2 linked regions of the Homo sapiens genome follow. The protein of the gene in region 1 interacts with the protein of each later gene in a biochemical or structural test. Each region holds a gene or a part of one and is shown on either strand. Other genes may lie near its edges.

Region 1 (3,924 bases):
TTCTCCTGCCTCAGCCTCACAAGTAGCTGGGATTACGGGCATGAGCCACCACCCCGGGCTAATTTTGTATTTTTGGTAGAGATGGGGTTTCTCCATGTTGGTCAGGCTGGTCTCAATCTCCCGACCTCAGGTGATCCACCCACCTCAGCCTCCCAAAGTGCCGGGATTACATGTAACTTATTATTAAACATTACCTGGTTAACCTTCTCTACCTGCCTCTCCTATCCCATTCTTTCCTTCCTTTCCCTCTTCTTCCCTCTTCCAAAAAGAAAAAGAAATTGGGCCTTTTAATTTTGAGCCAGAGAAACTGCTGCGAAGGCCTTTGCCCAGCCTCACCCTGGGAGTTAGTCGTCGTCTTCATTGTCGTCTTCGTTGTCTTCTTCTTTCTTCCTCTCTTCTTCTTTCTTCCTCCTCCTCTTCTTCTTTCTTCCTCTTCCTCTTCTTCTTCCTCTTGCTCCTCCTCCTCCTCCTCTTCTCCCCCAACCCCCACGTTCACTTCATCCCCTGGGAGCTGAGGCTTCCAGGCTCCAGCCTGCAACACATACCGTTCTACTCCCTCTCATCCACAGCCTGCCGGACCACAGGCTGCCCCTACCCCCACTGAAGGGCTGCCACACCAGCCCCGCTTGTCACTGCATTTCTGCTAACTCTTTCTGTTGCGTCCGCACATGACAGGCCCCACCACCATGTGCACATCTGGAAGCCCCACTCAGGTGGCTTCTTTGCCCAAATGCGCTCCTAGTTTTCCACTTCCTGGTGAACCAGCTGTGCTCTTGAGCTCTTGCCCGCGTCCCCTTCTCAGCATCGTCCCATTTCCACTTCCTCACCCCCACGCAACAGGGGATGCTGACCTCAGATCCTCATGCACTGCAGCACAAGACACCCTGTCCCTTCAGGGCCCTTCTCCAATGCTTGTTCATCATGACACTGAGACGTGGTCTCCAATCCATCAAGATCCCTCCTGCTGGGGTCCTCACAAGTTCTGTCTTAATGGACCACTTGGAGTCTTGCCTATTACCTGTAATGGCCTGTAAATTTCCTGGAGTACGGACCAGGAGTGGTTCTGATTCCCCACGGCAACAAGCGGATAGCAGGCTGCTGGTAAAGATCTGTAGAATAGATAAAGAGCCACGTGGTCTTTTATTACATAATCCTAAAGAAAATAGGAAACGAAGGACAGGATTCCATCTTAAGAAACCCCTTTCAGCTGGGCGCAGTGGCTCACATCTGTAATCCCAGCACTTTGGGAGGCCGACAGATCACCTGAGGTCAGGAAACCAGCTTGGCCAAAACCGTCTCTACTAAAAATAAATTATCCAGGTGTGGTGGCTCACACTAGGGGGACAGAGGCCGAAATTGTGGCTGCAGGAACATGGCGAAGGTCCGGTTGACTCTGCACCTGCGAGTCGTAAATCTCACGGTCCAGCCAGCCTGCTCTGGGTCTCTCTCTTCCATCCTTGGTATTTCAAAGAAACACTTGCAGCTCCTTCAAAGCCACATAGCCTCACTTCCCCTCTTCTCCCTGGTAAACTCAGCAAAAAAGGGACATCCACAGCAAAAGGAACTCAAGAAACAGTAATAATCCTGGGGACCTGGACTCACTGAGACAGCCCAGAGACCGTAGTGATCAGGGTGCGGCCCTTTTCAGTGCCATTGAGAACAAGGGAGGGAGAAGTCACCTTCTCTTGCCACATCTTTGTCATTGCACTCCTTCCCCAACCTGGGGCTGCAGAGAAGGTCTGCCCACCTGGCTTCTGAGTCATCCAAGTCTAGGAGGTTGCTCTTTGCCTATGTCCCCTGGTCCCCAGGTAGGTGCCAGTTAGGAGTGAGGTGTGGGCAGTGGCCGCCCTGGTGGGTTCCCCTCTCTCTGGCTTCTCCTTACAACTTTTTCCTTCCCTTTAAGCTTTACAAATACATTCCACTTGCAACAATGTTATGTCTGTATTAAACTTTAAAATTATACTCTGAACAGACCTGGTGTGATTCCATATGGAATGATTTACATGCTAGGCAAGAAACTTTTGCCAGCCAACTGCTAGTTGAATAGTTATTCTAGAGACATTATCAGATTCTATTACTGCCAGGGAAGTTGTTAAAGTTGACAGTTCTTCGGTTCCTGGAGAGCAGGAAATTGTAATGTTAATGCTTATTAATGTGGCTGTTGTCAAAGGTATAAGTAGAAAATAATCACTCTGGTGGCTCATGCCTGTAATACCAACACTTTGGGAGGCTGAGGCGGGTGGATCACTTGAGGTCAGGAGTTCGAGACTAGCCTGGCCAACGTGGTGAAACCCCGTCTCTACTAGAAATACAAAAATTAGCTGGGCATGATGGCACATGCCTGTAATCCCAGCTACTCGGGAGGCTGAGGTAGGAGAATCGCTTGAACCTGGGCAGAGGTTGCAGTGAGCCAATATCGCGCCACTGCACTCTAGCCTGGGTGACAGAACGAGACTCTGTCTCAAAAAATAAATAAAATAACCCCTCTGTTGTGCTCTTGCAGCATTCTGAAGTCCATGGAGTTTGCACCGTCCGAGGGCGCTGGGACACAGGTACGTGTCTCACCTCAATGGTCAGCACTAGCATCAGCCCCGCTGCTGGTTACCACTGGTCCCTCCGGCATATCCCATGATCCACTGTTTCTACGAGACCTCTCACTTACAGCCGATGAGTCATACTTCAAGAACATTTAACCAAGTTGAAGCAAATTATCTTTTTTTTTTTGTCTCCTTTTTTTCCATGTGTCCAAGGCATGAACCAGGCATAGATCAAAAGCCAAGCTGGGGATGAACAAGGGATTGCTTCATCCCTGACTGATAGGAGATGGGCACTACCAAAAAGCAAATTATCTTTAACAAAAAGAGGCAAAAAGAGAAAAGCTAGTGTTTTCCAAACTGGTAACTGAAGTGAAATTGTGATTTCACTTCAGCAGGTACTAAGAACATAAATAAAAAACAATTTCAGATTGTGTTTAAGAAGGCCAGGCTCAGTAGCTCATGCCTGTAATCCCAGCACTTTGGGAGGCCAAGACAGGAGGATCGCTTTGAGGCCAGGAATTTGAGACCAGCCTGGGCAATATAGCAAGACCATGTTGCTATTAAAAAAAAAAAAAATAGCCAAGTACTGTGACATATACCCGTGGTCCCAGCTACTTGGGAGGCTGAGGCAGGAAGATCGCTTGAGCCCAGTAGTTCAAGGCTATAGTGAGCTATGATCGCACCACTGCACTCCAGCCTGGACAACAGATTGAGACTGACTATTTTTTTTTTAATTGCATTAAAGAGCAGCCAAAAATGGATTGGTTTAGGAACTTTAGTTACATGCTGCCTCAGTAGAGAAGGTACAAGGGAAGGATGACTGTGGCCCAGGGTCATCTGGTGGCCAATTAAAATTGACATCCCAGACCAAGCATGGTGGCTCACTCCTGTAATCCCAGCACTTTGGGAGGCTGAGGTAGGTGGATCACTTGAGGTCAGGCATTTGAGACCAGCCTGGCCAATATGGTGAAACCCTATCTCTGCCAAAAATATAAAAAATTAGCTGAGCGTGGTGGCGCACGTCTGTAATCCCAGCTACTTGGGAGGCTGAGGAAGGAGAATCACTTGAACCCAGGAGCCAGAGGGTACAGTGAGCCAAGATCATGCCACTGCACTCCAGCCTGGGCGACAGAGTGAGACTCCATCTCAAAAAATTAAAAAATCAAATCAAATAAAATTGACATCCTAAGTGGAATCTGACTCCTGATGCCCAGAAGACAGCCAACATCTTTGTGGCTGGCAAAAAAAAAAAAAAAAGAAAAGTTCCCTTTACAGTAACGTTCGGACAGACGTTTGTGGCTTGGCAGCCAGTCTTATGGCCAAATGAGGCACGGGCTCAGGTCGCTTGAGTTTGAGAACAGATGAGAGAATAATTAATTTTTTTAGG
Region 2 (3,924 bases), on another chromosome or scaffold:
GGGATCTCTTGCAAATTAATGAACAAAGGTTCTTGAAACTATGATTTCTATCACGACAGCCAAAGCGATGGATTTGAAAGATTCGTGTCATAGTTAAGCTGCTATTATGTTTGACCTTTAAGGGGAAAAAAGGGGAAGAGGATTTCTGGTGGCTTGTTTCAGTGACCCTTTTTATTGATCACCTAGTCTGTGTCCAGCCCTCTGATGAGTCCAGGATATATTCAGATGAGACCTAAGGCCCACAGTCCAGTGCAAAATAAACAGCAGGATGAGTGCTCTGCTGCAGGAGGTTTGGGAAGTTAGGAAAGGCCTCATGGAAGCAAGGATGCCCAGGCTGTATCCTGAAGGATGAGCAGCTGTTAGCTAGAGATGGGAGAGGGCATGGGCCGTGCATCCAAGCCAGAGGAGTGGTGTGCCTTCTTGATGCTTTCTACCAGATATAGGCCAGCTTCAGAAAACACCACCAAATTGGAGTATGAGAAGGAAAGAAATATTTCCCCGTGGTGTTTTCCTTTACTATTCCTTGTACCAACTTGTAACTTAATAATTTAATCAGTATACTTCATTCTACATTAAAAAGACTCAAAATACTGTATATCATTTGAAAATTTTATCTGATACTCAAAACATAGTCACCTGATATGAAATGTGATCATATAATGAAAGCCCAGTGATGAGGAGGAGGCAAAGGATTGTCATAGTAATTAATATCTCTTCAGTCTATATGTAATATGTTACAGGCTCTGTGCTAATTGTATCACATCTATTATTTCCTGTCCAAGGGCAGATAATATGTCTCTTCAAGTCATTATTTTCCTAGTGACTTGCCCAGTGCTTGGCACATAGTAGAATTTAAGTATATGCTAAATGAATTTTAAAAATGCCTGAATTGATGGATTCTCAGAACAACTCCATGAGGTGTATGCTATTATCATTCCCATTTAGCATAGGAAATTGTGATGGAATGGTCAACTATTTGACCCAAGGTCATACTACCAGTGTGTGACACATCCTCACTTGAATATATGTTTATTTCTATTCTGTTTTGTCAGATGAACATTTAGTGTTTATATTAATGCATGCCAGGCATTGAGCTAGAAAATAATATGGTGCCCCAGACCTACGTGAACTCACAGCTTAGTGCAATCTTTTTAAACCAGTACCTCCTTTTAAGTGACACAAGAATCCCAAGCCTTTCTAACATGGAACTTGGCCTACTATCTGTACATCCCACCACCTAGGAAAATTTTACCAATCATGACTTTTTTATTTGTGTTATCAAAACATTACGTGTTTTTTTCCTGATATTCTAAATTTAAGATTACACTACTGTATATGATTTTTCAAATGCCATGTGCACCACAAAATTCTGCAGTCTCTTTCCTGCCATTGAAACCGGCTGGCTGGTCTACTCCAATGCTATGCCTAAGCCTTTAGTAGGAATTTTACCACCTGAAACACACACACACGCCCACGCCCACACACATACACCTCATGAAGTGGCTATAGGAGCAATCTAATTGGACAGATTATTGCATATTGTCCAATAAAAATAGACATGACTCCAAGTTACCTGAATTAGGAAATATTTCCCAGTCACCCAAAAGCACAAAAAGATAGGGAATCCAAAAAGTTGCTTTGTCATGCATTATAAGTTACGGATTAGCCTTTTGATTTAAGTCTTGCTTAGGCTATTATTTACATTAATCAGAGTTTCCTAAGCATACACCATGTGACAGAAAAGCACTTAAGCCCAGAACCTACCAATTTAGGGTTAAGTAGGGTAGGGGGAAGCTTTGACAATGATGCACATATGGATATTATTTTCCATGTACGAATAATAATAAACTGTATAGCACTATTACATATAGGTTCTAGTTTTATAAAACTATTTCAGACATTTTTTCACACACACCATGGATGATTCTTCCTTCCGTCGTCCCCTATACATTTTCCACTGTTGATATACCAAATCACATTAAATTGAGATGATCTATTTACATATCTGTGTTCTTAATAGATAGTAAACTTCTTGTAGGCAGAGGCTGTCCGCCATCTTTGGATGACAGGTGCCTCATCTTTGTAGGCAGAGGCTGTCTGCCATCTTTGCATCCTTACTACCAGCCAGGCATATAGTAGGTGTGCAGCAAAGAGCAAATTTCATATATAGAACTGTTGGCAAACTGGAGTAGACTGGATGTTTGTCAAAAACCTCGGCAAAATTTGGATATTCCATACACTTCTAAAAAGTAAGACATAAACCACATCTAGAACTCATGTGTATTATTAACATTTAAGGAACTGCCAGAATGTCTAGATAAAGAGTAATAATTTTTTTAAAAATTGGACCAGAGTGGAAGAACATCAACTGTCATCCATTTGCAGAAGAATCACCATTATCCATCAGCGATCTCAATAGTTTTTATTAGTGTCTGACTTTATTGATCCCTTATTACAAGAGAGTAAGTGAGATTGAAGCTGACAGATCAGGTAATCTTCTGGCTCTGGTTTTGGCAACTTTGCTAAGTGTCTTTTTACACTGTGGACTGTGGGAGGCTCTTAGTGAAATTGCAAGCTATTGGATTAATGGCAGAGCATCATGAACACATTAAGAATGTCTTTTTAGAGATATAAAATGTGAAAATGACTATAGAGAGTGTCAAAAAAAAAGATATCACAGTGCCTCTTAGGAAAGATAGCTGTGTTTTACATAAATAATGCGACTCCAGCTTATCCTTCACTGGAAGTTCTTTAGAGATCCCCCAAATTTACATATTCCAGAAATGTGTGCATGCTACAGAATTAACACTGATAGTGGATGTCAGGAGAATGAATAATAACTGAAAGAGCTTTACATTAGAGGTAACTTAAAGAAGATAATTATATAAAAATACTTTTGTCCCCAAACTGGCTTTTCTGGTTGTTCACTGCCTCCTGAACAATGCTGCCTTCTATAAATTATTTCACCATAGACCAACTGATGTCTGAAATGTGAGTTCTCATGTTTCTGCACATAGGGGTGAGGGATAGATTGGTGCTACAAAATCTTACTCCTAAGACTCGGTAGGAAATTAAGTTAGCTGTTACTAGAGAATATGGGTAACAGGTTAATATGGACCATGAATTTAGTCATTGAAATTACCGTAACCAAAATTTGCTGGGAAGATTGAAAATGATTTAAAAAAAGAAACCCTCCTAGTGATTCATTAAAATCATGTTTTTCTTCATTTTTGTATGTTAAAGGGCTGACAGTTTTCCGGGCATTTATTAAAAGCAGGATAAAGATAAGTCACGATAGGTCATCTTTTTGTGGTATCCTTGAGAAATTTAGAAGCATGAAATGTATAAATTTAAAATTTTTATGATCGGTTTGAAATTCAAAACTTAAGCTTTACTATTGATGAAGCCAGTAATAAGATTGCAGAATGTTTTTCTCTTGATAGAGGATCTCTGTGAATAGTTTGTTTCTTCTCAAATACGGTCAGTTAACCTTTGATCAGTGTTAATGCGCGTCCACTTTAAATCCAAATAATAGAGTGGAAAGTGCAAGTTCTGTTTCTCAAATTTTAATATACATGTGAATCCCCTGGGATCTTGGTAAAATTCAGCTGCTAAGTGCACTGGTCTGGGGTAGGGCCCAAGATTCTGCATTTCTAACAAGCTTCCAAGTGATGCCCATATTGCTGGTCCCTGGTCTATACTTTGAGTAGAAAAGATGTAGAGTCCAGTCAAAAAATCGCGAAGTCTCGTATATTTATGAGTCACAATTATAAAGTCATCTTCATGTATTTGGATTTATTGGGACCAGTGAGTTTGACAGCCTAGTAATAGATGGCATTGATGGAGATTCAATGAATGCTAGAGCAAAGTCTGTGGGTTTGATAGCTTTATACTGGTCTCAGTGGGCTGTTGCTTTCTACTTAA

The links.
Region 2: the proteins of CUX1 (region 1) and SATB1 form a complex in vitro, tested with the Homo sapiens proteins (one study listed by BioGRID).

Annotation. Positions count from the first base shown.
Region 1 is NC_000007.14:102,191,339-102,195,262, forward strand, and holds part of CUX1 (Homeobox protein cut-like 1), read left to right. Parts: intron 1-2,503; coding exon 2,504-2,552; intron 2,553-2,737; exon of another isoform or gene 2,738-2,867; intron 2,868-3,924. UniProt on the Homo sapiens protein: May be involved in intra-Golgi retrograde transport.
Region 2 is NC_000003.12:18,397,473-18,401,396, reverse strand, and holds part of SATB1 (DNA-binding protein SATB1), read left to right. Parts: intron 1-3,924. UniProt on the Homo sapiens protein: Crucial silencing factor contributing to the initiation of X inactivation mediated by Xist RNA that occurs during embryogenesis and in lymphoma.